2 separate regions of the Homo sapiens genome follow, and region 1 is linked to region 2. The links come from fine-mapping of genetic effects on gene expression. Tissue or cell type: whole blood. Region 2 holds a variant in brackets; the other region holds the start of a gene. All regions are shown on one strand. Distances are from middle to middle.

The links. PIP is the estimated chance that this variant, and not a neighbour inherited with it, causes the effect.
Region 1: it holds the start of ADAR, and the variant in region 2 is fine-mapped to the expression of ADAR in whole blood (INTERVAL, PIP above 0.99).

The regions. Positions count from the first base shown.
Region 1 is chr1:154,603,280-154,611,460 of GRCh38, reverse strand. ADAR (adenosine deaminase RNA specific) reads left to right here and starts at 3,275. Exons shown (of 15, transcript NM_001111.5): 1 at 3,275-3,469. The coding sequence starts at 3,455. RefSeq lists enhancers at 1,176-1,255, 1,339-2,332, 3,002-3,391 and a silencer at 3,392-3,501.
Region 2 is chr1:154,639,186-154,647,366 of GRCh38, reverse strand. No RefSeq gene overlaps it. Among named protein-coding and RNA genes, the nearest start is that of ADAR, 35 kb to the right of the region's middle. The variant TTG/G (reference allele first, on the strand shown) is at 3,390.

The sequences.
Region 1 (8,181 bases), 36 kb after region 2:
TCATCACCTCACAACCATGGGGGAGTTAAAACAATTACTGAGGGGGAGGAGATGAAACGTTTATGAATAAGACTGTCTGCAGTTACTTGAGCTGCTAAGATTAAATGACAATAGGAGTTGTTGTTCTTTCAAGGCATAAACTGACCTTCTGTTGAGGAAAGTTCACTGCTTTGCCACTGTGTCCTATGTTAGATTAAAAGGGGTGGGGGGAGCAGCGGTGCAGCTTCCCTCGCACAGTAGTTGTGATTAAAGCTTTTCTGGATCATTTCTGAAGAAGGGTAAAGGCTTTCAGATTGTCTTGCCTGAAGACAAGAAAGCAGAGGTAAGATATAACTCCTGTTACTTAAACGGAGGAAAAAAAACATGGGGAAGTGGACTGGAATTGCAACAGCAAGAGTTTGTTGTGGTTCTTGTTTGTTTTTACCTTTTAAATTTGTGAAATACAGCATATATATACAGAAACATGAATAAAACGTAAATGTATAATGAAATTATTGGAAAGCAAACATATGTAGCCACTACCCAAGTCAAGAGCTAGAACATCACCGGTACCCAAAAGATTTCTTCCCAGTCAAAACTCCCACCTTTCTCCCTAGAAGTGATTAACCACAATTTTGTCTTTTTTTTTTTTTTTTTCTTTTTTTTTTTTTTTGAGACGGTGTCTTGCTCTGTCTCCAGGCTGGAGTGCAATGGCACAATCTTGGCTCACTGCAACCTCCGACTCCCTGCTTCAAGCGTTTCTACCACGTCAGCCTCCCCAGTAGCTGGGACTACAGGCACACGCCACCATGCCCAGCTAATTTTTTGTACTTTTAGTAGAGATGGGGTTTCACTATGTTGGCCAGGATGGTCTCGATCCCCTGACCTCGTGATCCGCCCACCTCGGCCTCCCAAAGTGCTGGGATTACAGGCATGAGCCACTGCGCCCGGCCTCATTTTGTCTTTTATGCAGAGCATACTATAGTTTGGTTTTGCCTGGCTTGGGACTTTCTGTAAGTGGGATCATATAGTATACATATGGCTTTTCCCACTCAGTATCATATTTAGATAATTAGCTACCTTGTTGCATGCGTAGATCTTTCATTTTTGTTGCTGTATTGTATTCCATCATGGGCATATGCCACCATTTATCCATTTTACTTTTGATGGACATTTGGGTTGTTTCCAGTTTGGGGGCTATTAATTACAAATAATGCAACCATGAACTTCTTGGGGTTTACCATTACCTTTCTAGATAATGGTAAACTGGTTTCCTGTAGTGACTAAGAGCTGCTCTGCATCCTTGCTGCCACCTGGTCTAATCAGATGGCTAATGCTGTCTGTCTGGTGAATGGACAGTAGCTCACTGTAGCTATACTGTGCATTTCTCTGATGTGATGGGGTTGAGAACCTTTTCATATGTTTGATATTTTTTATCTCCTGTGAAGTTGTCTTTCGATTGTTTTTGCCCATTGTTATACCTACTGAGGGGTCTGTTATTCTTTCAACTAACCAGCCCTCTGAAGGCGAATATAAGGATACAAAACATGCTTCCTGCCCCCGAGGAGATGACTTGACAATTCTAGAGGCAGATATATGAACAAGAAGTACATGATAATTGTGATTACTGAGGCATCCATCTTCCCTAGCAGACTAGCTAAAGGATGGCGCTCTTATTTGTGTCATATCCTGGGTGCTTAACACAGTATCTGCCACATAATTAGGTGCTTAGTAAAGTTTTGTTAAATGATCGAATGGGGCGTTTTTAGCGCAGTGTGCAAGTGCCCTATTAGGGGTAGGCGCCCAGTAACTCGAGAAGCATGGAGTAGGAAACCACAAACAGCACCTGCTCCCCCTCCTCTCCCCCTACCTGCTGTGGGGAAGGCCTCCCTTGTAAATTTGAAAGGTTGATTCACGGGAAGCCGTGGAGGAGGTGCATGCTAGGCCAACGAATAGAATGTGCAAAGGCCCAGAAGGAAGACAGAGCCCAGCCTGCAAGGGAATGTTAATTTGGAGTGACTAACACCATGAAAGGGCATCAGCTGGAGATACTGCTATAAAGGGACTGCCTTGTAATTTCATAAGCATGGGGGTAAAATTAAGATTAAACACAGGGAAAGAACATTCTCACAGGTGAGGATGGTGTTGAACCCTAGAATAATCGTTTCCCAGATACCTTGAACAAAAATCCAGCAGTTAGAGAAGCCTGACCATGAAGCAAATTTGACTTTTGTCCCTCTAGATAACAAAAGTTATCTTTTTGAAAGTAATGGTGTAATTTGAATGAGTGTAGAGAAGCGCTGAAGACTGAGCTTTACTAAAGCCTTCAGACCTGGATTTGGCAGCAGCGTGGCCTTAGTCAAGCCTCGGTTTCTACACCTGCAAAGTGGGAATAATGCCTACCTTGGAGGGCTGTTGTGAAGATTAAGGGAGATAATACATGTAAAGTACTTAACCATTTGCCTGGTGGGGTAGTTTTTATGACCTAGATCCTAAATTGTTCACTGCTGCTGTTGCTACTCTTGGTACTTTTTACTGGCTGGCATCTGCTTGCTTAAGTTTATAACATAGTAGGAGCATTAACAAGGTCCCACGGTGGGGACCTTGGTCGTTTGACGAGATCTGCGCTCCCGCCCATCCCCTCCCCCCCCCCTCCACATTGGAGACGCGGCCACCACCGCGCTGGCGCGGAGAGAGGGAGGACCGGGCGTCATGCTGTTTCTGGCCTGAGGTTTTGTGTGCCTTTGTTTTCCTTTTGCTCTATTCGTGTATTCCTGCCTACGGCCTGTGCGGGGAATTAGGAGCTCAGTACTGAAACGGCGGTTTTCCTAAACAGTACCGGACGGGCGCGGGGGCTGACGCCTGTAATCCCAACACTTTGGGAGGCCGAGGTGGGCGGATCTCTTGAAGCCGGGAGTTCGAGACCACCCTGGCTAACGTGGTGAAACCCTGTTCTTACTAAAAATACAAAAAAAAAAAAAAAAAAAAAGCCAGGAGTGATGGCGCTCGCCTGTAATCCCAGCTACTCCGTAGGCTGAGGCAGGAGAATCGCTTGAACCCGGGGGGCAGAGGTTGCAGTGAGCCGAGATTGCGCCATTGCACTCCAGCCTGGGCAAAAAGAGCGAGACTCCGCCTCAAAAAAAAAAAAAAAAGTACCTTCCGTAGTTCTCATGCAGCGGAGGGGTTCGACTTGTAACCGGCCTGAAACCAAGCGTGGCGCAAGATTTGCTCAAGCCCCTCCTCTTGGCCAAACTTTCCGGAGGGGAAGGCTTTCCGAGGAAACGAAAGCGAAATTGAACCGGAGCCATCTTGGGCCCGGCGCGCAGACCCGCGGAGTTTCCCGTGCCGACGCCCCGGGGCCACTTCCAGTGCGGAGTAGCGGAGGCGTGGGGGCCTCGAGGGGCTGGCGCGGCCCAGCGGTCGGGCCAGGGTCGTGCCGCCGGCGGGTCGGGCCGGGCAATGCCTCGCGGGCGCAATGAATCCGCGGCAGGTAAGCCGGGCCGGCCTTGGACCTTCGCCGCCGTCTGGGTTCGTTTACAACCTCACAGGCTTTGTGTTGCAGTGCGTAGCGTGTGCGTCTTGTGAGTGTTAGAGTGTGTGTGTGTGTGTCGTCTTGCCAAGCAGCATTGCTGGTTTAGGAATTTGTGCGTCTTGTGAGTGTGTGTGTGTGGGTGTGTGTCGTCTTGCCAAGCAGCATTGCTGGTTTAGGAATTTGTGCGTCTTGTGAGAGTGTGTGTGTGTGTGTGTGCGTGTGTGTGTAGTCTTGCCAAGCAGCATTGCTGGTTTAGGAATTTGTGAATTTGTATCCTGCTCATTAATTCTGCAGAATGGAGCAGTGCGTGAAGAGGGCTTGGGGGAAAATGCGCCCCCGTCTGAGTAGGAAGGCCTGAGCCCATGTCAAGGCAGACACATCGTCTCCCTTTCTGCTAGGGCCCCTTGTGGAACCCCCTACCCCCGCTTTAGCCCCACTTGAACAACGTTCGGACTTTGAGCAGCGCACACTATCCTCAGCTCACCTTATCCACCTCCTGAAGGCCTTCTGGGAGTTAAAAATGGCACTTAAGCTGTAGGAGAAAGCTTGTTAACCACTTTATAGCTAAAAACTGGGAAAACACAAATGGCCTTCAGCAGGTTAACAGATAAACTGAAATACATCCACATAATGGGATACTGCTTAGTAGTGAAGAGGAAATACTGTTACAAGTAACAACACGGGTGACTCGCAAGTGCGTTATGCTAAGCACGAGAAGCCAGACTCAAAAGGCTGCATACTGTATGAGTCCATTTATATGACATTCTGGAAAAAAAAAACCACAGTTATAGGGATGGAAAGTGGATCCGTGGGTGCCAGGGACTGGGTATCGTGGAAGAAATTGATTGTTGAGTGGCATGAAAAAGCTTTTTAGGGAAATAGAAATGTTCTATATCTTGATTGTGGTGGCGATTGTCGAAATTCATAGATTTATACACTTAAAAGGATAAATTTTACTGTATCTAAATTATATACCTCAATTTTGTTAAGATATATATATATTTTTTTTTTTTTAAGCACTCCTTTGAAAGGATTAAGGACGCCTAACTTGAAGGAAAAGCATTTCTGCACAGGTGTCAGTGTATTGCACTGTGGAACCTGTGTGGTAAAGGCAAAGGGGGTAGTGCTTATCTCTTGATCCTAAATATGTGAGACCAGATTAAAGTGAAATCTGGGAGGCAATGAATGTTAAATGAGTTGTTATGTAATTTGCATAGAGGTGATGCTGAGAGATTTAGAAAGGATCACTGTGGGTTGCTTGCTCACTTTCTTGCTCTCCTATTCCGTAGCTTTCCAAATGGCTGTACTCAACGGTGGCTTGGTGTTTAGGGGATTTAAGGGGGGCAAAAAGAAAGATTAATAATCTCCTCCTCTCCCTCTAACCCTACTGCCCTAAGATATCCTTAGCAAACTTACATCTCCTTTCTTTTCTCTGTGTTCATTCCATTGTGCGCACACATACACATTCATGGATTTTCTCTTTTTGTTTAGGGAAAAAAATTATAATGTACATACTATTCTACAACTTTTTGTTGTTTTATTGAACATTATATGATTCCTAAATTATCCCCAGGTGAATACAAATAGATATGACACATTTTAAAAAAATAAAATAACTGGCCGGGCGTGGTAGCTCATGCCTGTAATCCCAGCACTTTGGGAGGCCGAGGAGGGCGGATCAGGAGATCGACACCATCCTGGCCAGCATGGTGAAACCCCATCTCTACTAAAAATACAAAAATTAGCTGGGTGTGGTGGCGTGCGCCTGTAATCCCAGCTACTCCGGAGGCTGAGGCAGGAGAATCACTTGAACCCGGGAGGCGGAGATTGCAGTGAGCTGAGATCACACTGCACTCCAGCCTGATTGCAGTGAGCCGAGATCATGCCACTGCACTCCAGCTTGGCAACAGAGCGAGACTCCGTCTCACAAGAAAAAAAATAACCGTGTGAGTACTATTCCATAGAATGAATGTTTCATAATTTAATTCTTCTATAGACAGACATTAAAATATTTTCCAGATTTGGGCCAAGAGTAGCAGTTTAAAAAACATTTAGCTTTTAACTGACTCTAGCCACTTTGAAACACAATTTTTTTTTCCCAAGGTCACTCAAAGAGCTAATAGGAGAACCCCTAAGTCCCATAATTCAGCTCTGGGAGCCAGCACTCACTCTGTACACACATTTGCCTCTGTCCCTAGCAATATGGTGGGCGTGAGGGTGCAGCAAGAGGAACAAGAAAGAAATGATTGCTTGCATAGTGGCGTCTTGTTCATGCAGTCATTAATTCAACAAATGTTTGTTGAGAATCAGCTTTGTGCCAAGTGCTAGAGAGGTTGAGATGATTGAAGCATAGTCCTTGACCCCCAAGAGCTCACCATGGAATCAACTGAAGCCCCTCATCAGTACTGTGTTGGGAATATTGAGAGTGGAGAGTTGAGTATAACTTATAGGACACCTAATGTTAATTACCTTTCAGACACTGCAATGTGTGTGTGCCATAAAAAAAAAAAAAATCCAGTAGCTCTGATACGAGGGAAAGTAAATGGTTTAACAGGTGCTGAGTAGGAGAAGCTCAAGGAGAGGAAACCCCAAGGGCTGAAGAAGGTGGGAGTCAGGAGTCTCCTGAAGCAAGTGGCATTTAAGGAGCTCTATAAGGAAAGGGTCAGAGTTGTGATAGGTGGCTGTGGAGGGAGATGTGCCACCTGGATTGGCATGTAGAGGGATAGAAAGATTATAGGCCTTTGCAATGGCCCAGTAAGAGGTAATGAGGGGCTGGAACTGGAAGAAAACACATTTAAGACACAGTACAGAGGTGGCAGACAAGGTGGGACTTGGCAACTACCTGATGAGATCCAGGAGATGAGGCCAGGAGGCGGGCAGCAAAGATGACGCAGGTTTCTAGCCTTAATAGGCTAGGAGGAGAGTGATGCCATTAGCAATAAGAACTACAGGAGAAGGAGCTGAGTTTGAGGGAACTATTAATTTGGTTCAGAATATGTGCTGTTTGAGTTATGGCAGGATATTTAAGTGGACAGACTGTCGACATAGTTGGAAATTCAGATCTTAAGCTCCCACACAAGGTAGTGGCTGGACATAGTAGATTTGAGTGCTCTTGCTTCAGAGGGCTAGTTTAGGTTGGGGCAGTGATTAAAGCAACCTAGGAAATAAATTATAAAGGAAGAAGAGGTCCTTAAAACCTTGGAGACTGATTATATAAAGGGTGGATCCGTTAATACAGTAGCTATTAAAAAATTATAAGGGGTGGGAAAAAGGGACAAAGAAGAAAAAAGAGGTGAAAGACCTTTGCTGTGTCACCAAACCCTGGGAGGAGAATTTTTTAAAAGAAGAGTACTCAATCCACAGTGAACTAAGGCATGTTTGTTAAACACAATTGACCACCACACAGCGAAGACCCAAATGAGGTTCAAGAGAAGGAATTTTTATGGACCCTGTTAGCACAAGTCAAGGTCCTTCTCCAGTACCACTGGGAAGCTTTGGAGAAGAAAAGGGGGACAGTGGGCCTTGGGTGGAGAAGGGAACTGACCATGAGATCCAGGTGGGGTGAGGAGGTGTGTGAAGTCAGAGTGGGGAAGAATCAGGGTGGCTTACTGGCAGCTTCACCGGGGTCATGCGAGGAGCAGGTTCCACCAGAGTAAGGAGTGAAGTTGTAGAAACACAGGGAAGTCACCATCAGAAAAGAGCAGGAGTCAAGAAACTATGGCCCACAGGTACAAACTACCTGTTTTTATAAATAAAGCTTCATGGTAAATGAATTGTAAATAAAGTTTTGCATATTGTGTGAGGCTGTTTTTGTGCTACAGTGGCAGAGCTGTCTGGCCCTTTATAGAAAAAGTTTATCAGCCACTGGAAAAGAGTTGCAGGATTTGAGGTCTTGGTGTGATGGCCTAGGTTAGAGTCATAGTGAGATTGAAGGAGTAGCTAGACAAGCCAATTGTGTGGCAGAAAGGTAGGGATGGAGATCACTGGGTTAAGGATCCTTGTAGCCAGGACACCATGAGAGTGATTGACAAGAATGCTGAAATCCCCTAAGTGTGTCAGGATGTGGAAGAGTAGAAGGCTAGAGTTATGGAAGAAAGGGTCCCACCTCTACCTGTGCAGCCTCCAGGAGAGTCTGAGGAGGGGGCGGTGAGTGTGAGTAAATGTTGTCAGAATCCCTCCTCCCAGTCTACAAGCCCCAGGGAAAGGAAGCAAGGTGTTTACTGACACCCCCAGGCTTATAAGTACTTCCTGGCTCCATCACCCTCCAGTGAACAGCCCTGGGGAGAAGACAGTACTGGTTTGCAGGTGGGTGGGTGGGGAAAGGGGTCACAGGTGCTTGGTGTTCTGGTAAATGTGCATATGAGAACATGGGGTTGCTTGTGCCCTGTCCGTCAGGGTTCAGAAGAACGTGCAGTGGAAGCAGCTATGGGGAAGTAGCTAGGGAAGGTAGGACTGGTCTGAGGTGGTGAGGAGCAGATGCTGCCAGCTCCACACATCCAGGAGAGCCTGGGTGGTTTGGGCAAAAGTCTCTGGCATCCCTTCTGAGCCTGGGTACCACACTGAAGAGTGAGGACAGTGTGCCATTTTTATCAGGAAACCCTCCAGCTCCCTGAAGACCAAATTCTGATCCTCCTGGGATGGCAGTGAAGAGCCACAGAGATGACTCTGAG
Region 2 (8,181 bases):
GGGAAGATCACTTGAACCTGGGAGGTGGAGGTTGCAGTGAGCTAAGATTGCGCCACTGCACTCCAGCCTAGGCAAAAGAGCAAGACTCCATCTCAAAAAACAAACAAAAAACAAACAAACAAAAACCTCATCTTGTGTAATTTTATTTATCTGAAACATTCAGAATAGGCAAATCTATAGTGACAAAAACTGTATTAGTGGTTGCTGAGGACTGGGGAAATGTTGGTTTGATGAGAACAGAGAATGATCTCTAAGGGTATGGGGTTTCTTTGAGGGTTGATGAAAATTTTCTGAGTCTAGATTATGAGTGATGGTTGCACAACTATGTAAATATTGAATTATGTACTTTAAACTGATAAATTTTATGAAGTGTAAATCATATCTCCATAAAGCTATTTTTAAAGAAGAAAATTGATATAATGTTGATATAGTTTGGATATTTGTCCCCTTCAAATCTCATGTCAAAATTGGATCCCCAAAGTTGAAGTCAGGGCCTGGTGGGAGGTGTTTGGGCCATGGGGGCAGATCCTTCATGAATGGCTGGGGTCCATCCCCTCAGTGATGACTGAGTTCTCACTCTCTTAGTTCTCGTGAAAGCTGGGTGTTTAAAAGAGCGTGGCACCTCCTCCTCTCGCTCTTGCTCCCTGTCTCACCATGTGACAGGCCTGCTGCCCCTTTACCTTCTGCTATGAGTGGAAGCTTCCCGAAGCCTTCGCCAGAAGCTGATGCTGATGGTATGCTTCTTATATAGCCTGCAGAACCATGAGCCAAATAAACTTCTTTTCTTGATAAATTACTCAACCTTAGGTTAAAGTTCCTTTATAGCAACACAAAATGAAGGAATACAACTGTCCTTCTCCTTCCTCTGCTTGATTTTTCTTTATTATACTACCTGAAATTATATGCTCATTTATTTTTTCTGTCTTTTTCTTCTCCAAACCAAAGTACAATTTTCATCAGGGCAGGTACTCTGACTATTTTTTTCACAGCTGTATCCTCAGCAGGTAAAACTATGCCTAATACATAATGGGGGTTCAATAAATTCTGCTAAATAAATGGAGTGAACAAGACAAGGAAATCACTGCTAAGTTTTACTGTTGATCGCAGACAATGACGTAAGAACGAAAGAGAGCAAAAGCGAAATTGGAAGGGACAAAATAATCACTACTTCTGGACAATATTGTCTACACAGAAACACCAAAAGAATCCATTAAAAATTACGATGACTAATAAGATAATTAAATTAGGTATCTGAGACCAGGTGTGGTGGCTCACGCCTGCAATCATGGCATTTTGGGAGGCTAAGGCAGGAGGATCGCTTGAGCTCAGGTGTTTGAGACAAGCCTGGGCAACATGGTGAAACCCTGTCTCTACCAAAAATACAAAAAATTAAAAATAGCCAGGTGTAGTGGCATATGCCTGTAGTCCCAGCTATTTGGAGGGCTGAGGTGGGAAATCGCTTGAGCCCAGGAGGTGGCGGCCCCCGGAGATTGTGCCACAGCACTCCAGCCTGGGTGACAAAGTGAGACTCTGTCTCAAAAAAAAAAAAAAAAAAAAGGCCAGGAGCGGTGGCTCACGCCTGTAATCCCAGCACTTTGGGAGGCCGAGGCGGGTGGATCATGAGGTCAGGAGATCGAGACCATCCTGGCTAACAAGGTGAAACCCCGTCTCTACTAAAAATACAAAAAATTAGCCAGGCGCGGTGGCGGGCGCCTGTAGTCCCAGCTACTCGGGAGGCTGAGGCAGGAGAATGGCGTGAACCCGGGAAGCGGAGCTTGCAGTGAGCCGAGATTGCGCCACTGCAGTCCACAGTCTGGCCTGGGCGACAGAGCGAGACTCCGTCTCAAAAAAAAAAAAAAAAAAAAAAAAAAAAAAAAAAAAGGTAGCTCAGTAAAAGCCCAACATTCAAAAATGAAAGCAACTTTTATCTATAGAGTCAATGAAATGTCAATTAAAATCTCAACAAGTTATTTTGTGGATATTGGCAAACTGATCCTAAGTTTTACAGAGAGGCCAAAGAACCAGAATAGCTAACACAATATTGAAAGAGAAGAAAAAAGTTGTGTAACTGATATTACCAGACTTCAAGACTTCCTCCCATAATACTTTTTTTTTTTTTTTGAGATGGAGTCTTGCTATGTCCCCCAGGCTGGAGTGCAGTGGCGTCATCTCAGCTCATCGCAACCTCCGCCTCCCCAATTCAAGCAATTCTCCTGCCTCAGCCTCCCAAGTAGGTGGGATTACAGGTGCACACCACCAGGCCCAGCTAATTTTTGTGTTTTTAGTACAGATGAGGTTTCACCATGTTGGCCAGGCTGGTCTCAAACTCCTGACCTCAGGTGATCTGCCCGCCTTGGCCTCCTAAAGTGCTGGGATTATAGGAGTGAGCCACCGCGCCCATAATATTTTAATTAAGAAGTGTGATATCAGCAAAAAAAAAAAAAAAAAAAAAAGCAAATACAGCAGTGGAACAGAATAGAAAACCCAGAAATAGACCCATGTAAATATAGTCAATTGATCTTTGACAAAGAAGCAAAGGCAATGTAATGGGGAAAAGATAGCCTTTTCAACAAATGATACTGGAATATGTGGACATCCATACACACACACAAAATCTAGACACAGACTTAACAAAAATTAACTCAAAATGGACCGTAAACCTAAATACAAAAGGCAGAGCTATAAAAACTTTTAAAACTGTAATACTCCTAGATGATAACATAGGAGAACATCTAGATGACCTAGGGTTTGGCAATGGCTTTTAAGATACATCAGGCCAGGCCTGTAATTACGCTTGTAATCCCAGCACTTTGGGAGGCCAAGGTGGGTGGATCACGAGGTCAGGAGTTTGAGACCAGCCTGGCCAATATGGTGAAACTCCATCTCTACTAAAAATACAAAAATTAGCTGGGTGTGGTGGCGTGTGTCTGTAGTCCCAGCTACTCGGGAGGCTGAGGCAGAAGAATCACTTGAACCCGGGAGGCAGAGGTTGCAGTGAGCCGAGATCGTGCCACTGCACTCTAGTCTGGGTGACAGAGCGAGAATCTGTCTCAAAAAAAAAAAAAATACAACATCAAAGGCACAATCCTTGAAAGAAAGAATTAATAAGCTGGACTTTTGTTGAAATTAAAAACTTCTGCTCTGTGAAAGACACTGTCAAGAGAATAAAGACAGAAACCACACTAGGAGAAAATATTTACAAAAGACATATCTGATGAAGGACTGTTATCCAAAATATACAAAGAACTATTAAAATTAAGTAATAAAAAAGTAAACAACCCAGCTAAAAACTGGACCCTTATTTGATCATTACACATTGTAAACATGTATTGAAATATCACATGTACCTCATTAATATGTACAATTTTTATTATTTTTTTTTTTTTTTT[TTG/G]AGACAGAGTCTCATTCTGTTGCCCAGGCTGGAGTGCAGTTGTGTGATCTCGGCTCAAAGCTCCACCTCCCAGGTTCACACCATTCTCCTGCCTCAGCCTCCGGAGTAGCTGGGACTACAGGTACCCACCACCACACCTGGCTAATTTTTTTGTATTTTTAGTAGAGATGGGGTTTCACCATGTTAGCCAGGATGGTCTCAAGCTCCTGACCTCGTGACCCGCCCGTCTCGGCCTCCCAAAGTGCTGGGATTACAGGCGTGAGCCACTGTGCCCAGCCAATATGTACAATTATTATATGTCAATTAAAAATAAAGAAATATAAAAGGGGCCAACGATCTCAACAGACACCTCACCAAAGAAGATATACAAATGGCAAATAAGCATATGAAAAGATGCTGCTCATCGTATCATCAGGGAAATGCAAATTAAAACAAGATACCACTATACCTCTATTAGAACGGCCAAAATCAAGAACGCTGACAATACCAAATACTGACAAGGATGTGGAGCAACAGGAACTTGCATCCATTGCAGGCAGGAATGCAAAATAGTATAGTCACTTTGGAAACAGTGTAGTGGTTTCTTGCAAAACCAAACATTTTCAACACACAATCCAGCACTCACACTCTTTGGTGTTTACCCAAATGAACTGAAATCTTACGTTCACACAAAAATCTGTTCCTATGGTATAAATATGTCCCAAAGTTCATGTGATGGAAATTTCCTCCCCAATGCAGCAGTGTTGAGAGGTGAGACCTTTAAGAGGTGATTCTTATGGACACCATTATCTAAGGAATGGGTTAGTTATCATGGGAGTGGGTTCCTGATAAAAGAATGATTTTGGCCAGATGCAGTGGCTCATGGCTGTAAACTCAGCACTTTGGGAGGCCAAGAAGTGAGGAATTGCTTGAGGCCAGGAGCTCAAGACCAGCCTGGGCAATATAACCCTGTCTCTACAAAAAATTAAAGAAAAAAAAATTGGCAAAAGTGGTGGCATGTGCCTTTAGTCCCAGCTGAGTACTCAGGAAGCTGAGGCAGGAAGATCACCTAAGCCCAGGTGTTAAGGTTATAGTGAGCTATGATTATGCCACTACACTCCAGCCTGGGTGACAGAGCAAAACCCTATCTCTAAAAAAATGAAAATAAAAAATAAAATAAAAAGAATGAGTTTGGCCACCTTTCTCTCTCACTGTTGTGTGTGCCTTCCTGCCCTTTCATCTTCCACCATGAGATGATGCAGCCCTAAAACCCTCATCAGATGCTGATGCCATGTTCTGGAACCTTCCAGCCTCCAGGACCATGAGCCAAATAAACTTATATTGTTTGTAAGTTACCCAGTCTGTAGTAGTCTATTGGAGCAGCAGAAAACAGACTAAGACTCCTGCACACAGATGTTTATAGCAGCTTTATTCATAATTGCCAATATTTGGAAGCAACTAATATATCTTTCAGTAGATAAATAAGTGGACATGTCTATCAGTAGATAAATAAATGGATAAATAAGCTGTGATACATACAGACAAGGGAATATTATTCAACACTAAAAAGAAAGAAGTTATAAAGCCATGAAAAGACATGAAGGCAACTTAAATGCATATTACTAAGTGAAAGAAGCCAATCTGAAAAGTCTACATTCTGTATAATTCCAAATCTATAACATTCTGGAAAAGGCAAAACTATGGAGATGGTAAAAAGGTCAGTGGTTGCTGGAGGTTATTAGTGAGGGAGAGATAAATCCATGGAGCACAAAGGATTTTTAGGGCAGTGAAATGACCTTGTTTGATAACGTAATGGTAATTATGTCATTATACATCTGTCCAAACCCACAGAATGTACAACATCAAAGTGACCCCTGATGTAAACTATGGACTTTGGGTGATAATGATGTGTCAGTGTAGGTTCATTAATTATAGCCAATGTGTTACTCTGGTGGGGGATGTTAATAGGGGGTAGGCTATGCATGTATGGGGGAATGGGGTTTCCCACAGGAAATCTCTGTGCCTTTTGCTCAGTTTTGCTGTGAATCAAAAACTTCTCTAAAAAATAGTCTATGAAGAACAAAAAGGAGGAGGAAGAGGGTGAGGAGGGGGAGGAGGCCTAACTAAACTGAAGGGTGTGCTATAATAATAATTGCAAACAATAGCAAAGTCATGGAATCAACCTAGGTGCCCATCAACAGGGAACTAGATAACAAAAATGTGGTATATATACACCATGGAATACTATGCAGCAATAAAAAAGAACAAAATCATGTCCTTGCAGCAACATGAATGCAACGGTAAGCTATTATCCTAAGTGAATTAACACAAAAACAGAAAATCAAATATTGAATGTTCTCACTTATAAGTGAAAGCTAAACATTGGGTACACATGGATTTAAAGATGGGAACAATAGACATTGGGAACTCCAAAAGTGGGGAGGTAGGCAGGAGGGGCAAGGGCTGAAAAACTTCCTATTGGATACTATGTTCGCTATCAATAGACAGATCAATAGAAGCACAAACCTTGCATTGTGCAATATGACAATGTAACAAACCTGACATGTACCCACCCCTTGAATCGAACATGATTTTTTTTAAACAAAAAAGAAACAGCATGAGTATCCATCCCCTTTCTCCATACTGTGAGGCCTTGTGTTGGCTCCTCTCCTGCTCCAGAGAAAGACTTAGGCCTAGTCTATGAAGAAAGTAAGACTTAGGGCCTCTAGTTTGGGATCAGATACAGTTGAGATTAAGGTTATTGTTCTGAAAACAGGATAAAGGGAATGCTTATTTGTTAAATGTTAAGACCCCTCAATCCTCCTCCTCTGCTCAGTTATCAGAGAGTTATCAACCAGGGTTATATCCTTTAGGCAGGAAAATGGAAGGTTTTTCACAGGGGAATTTGAACAGCTTAAGAGAAAAGAAAAAAACCAAATATACCAACATCAGGCGTTCTCCAACAATGGCCCAACCAGATCACCCTACAGCCGATGTTCTCAAAATCAGCTGCACATTAGATTTCCAAGGTCCTTTTGAAAACCTCTATGCCCAGGCTGTATCCCACGCCAATTCAATATGTAACTCTGGGAATAAAACCCAAATATCTATAATTCTTACTACTCTTAAACAGGATCTATAGCTATGTCCCCTTTCTGGTTCTGACTTTATTTGTGCCTCCTCTCTTTTATTCTAGATCAGTTTTATCAGTTTTTCTATCAGTCGTTTCCAAAAACCAATTTGTGCCTTTATTGAGTCTCTGTTATAAACCTGTTTTCTATTTTATTTGTTTCTACTCTTATCTTTATTTTTTATTTTCATTTTTTATTTAACTCACAGTACGTCTACTCCTATCTTTATCATTTCCTTTCTTTCTACTTTCTGTGTTTAATTTACTCTGTGTGTGTGAGTGTGTGTGTGTGTGTGTGTGTTTCTAACTTCTTGAGATGGATACTTACATCACTATTTTCAGGCTTTCTTTTTTGAACTATGTCATTATTTCTATATATATTCTATGGTTCAATTGACACATTTTCAATTTTAAGGCTATAAATTTTCCTCTAATGGCAGTTTTTGTTGCATCTTGCAAGCTTAGCTATTCTTAACATTATTTAGTCCAAAATATCTTTTCCTGTATATTGTGATTTATTTAATCCATTAGGTATTTAGAAGTATGTTGCTAATTTCCAAACATTCAGGGATATTCTAGTTACCTTTTTTATTATTGATTTCTAAATTAATTTAAGTGTGGCCAGAGAACATGCTCTGTTTGATTTTAATCATTTTAAATTTATTGAGTTGCTTTATGATCCAACATATAGTCAATTTTGGTAAATGTTCCATGTGTACTTGAAAAGAATGTATATTCAACAACAATTGTTGCAATGTTCTATATGTAACATTTCAGTAATATTTATTGCATCATTCAAATCATTTATATCTCTACTGATTTTTTTGTCTGATAGTTTTCTAGTTAACAAGAGAGGTATATTGAAATCTACTCTACTACTCTGATTAAGGATTTCTCTATTTCTTATTTTAGTTATGACTTTTTTATTTTTTTTGCTTTCTATATTCTGATGTCTTGTTATTAAGTACATACAAATTTTATATTGTTGTATTTTCTTGGTGAGCTGACCCCATTATTATTATGAAACATTTCTGTTTATTCCATTTTATTTTATTTTATTGTTTTGAGACAGGCTCTCAGTCTGTTGCCTAGGCTGGAGTGCAACCGTGTGATCTCAGCTCATTGGAACTTCCACCTCCTGGGCTCAAGTGATCCTCCCACCTCAGCCTCCCTAGTAGCTGAGACTACAGGCATGTGCCACCACACCCAGTTAATTTTTGTATTTATTCTTAGAGATGGGGTTTTACCATGTTGGCCAGGCTGGTTATTCACTTCTTATCTTGCTTTATACATTAAAGTCTTTATGCTACATCTGCTTTCTTTTGTTTTGAATTTGTGTTGTATCTATATTTTTTTCATTCTTTTGCTTTCAAACTTTCTGTGTCCTTATATTTAAGGTGTGTTTATTATAATCAACATATAGTTGTGTGTGTGTTTTTTAAATCCAGTGTGACAATCTTCCTCTTTAATTGGACTTTTTAGTCCATCTATGTTTAATGTAATTACTGACATATTTGGGCTTAAAATCTATCTTATTGTTTCTGTATTCTGTATTTCTTTTTCTCTCCTTCTTGCCTTCTTTTGAATTTTTCAAATCCTGTTTTCTTTATCTATTAGCTTATTAGTTTATCTTCTCTTACTGTTCTTTCAATGGTTACTCTAGATTACAGCCTGCATCCTT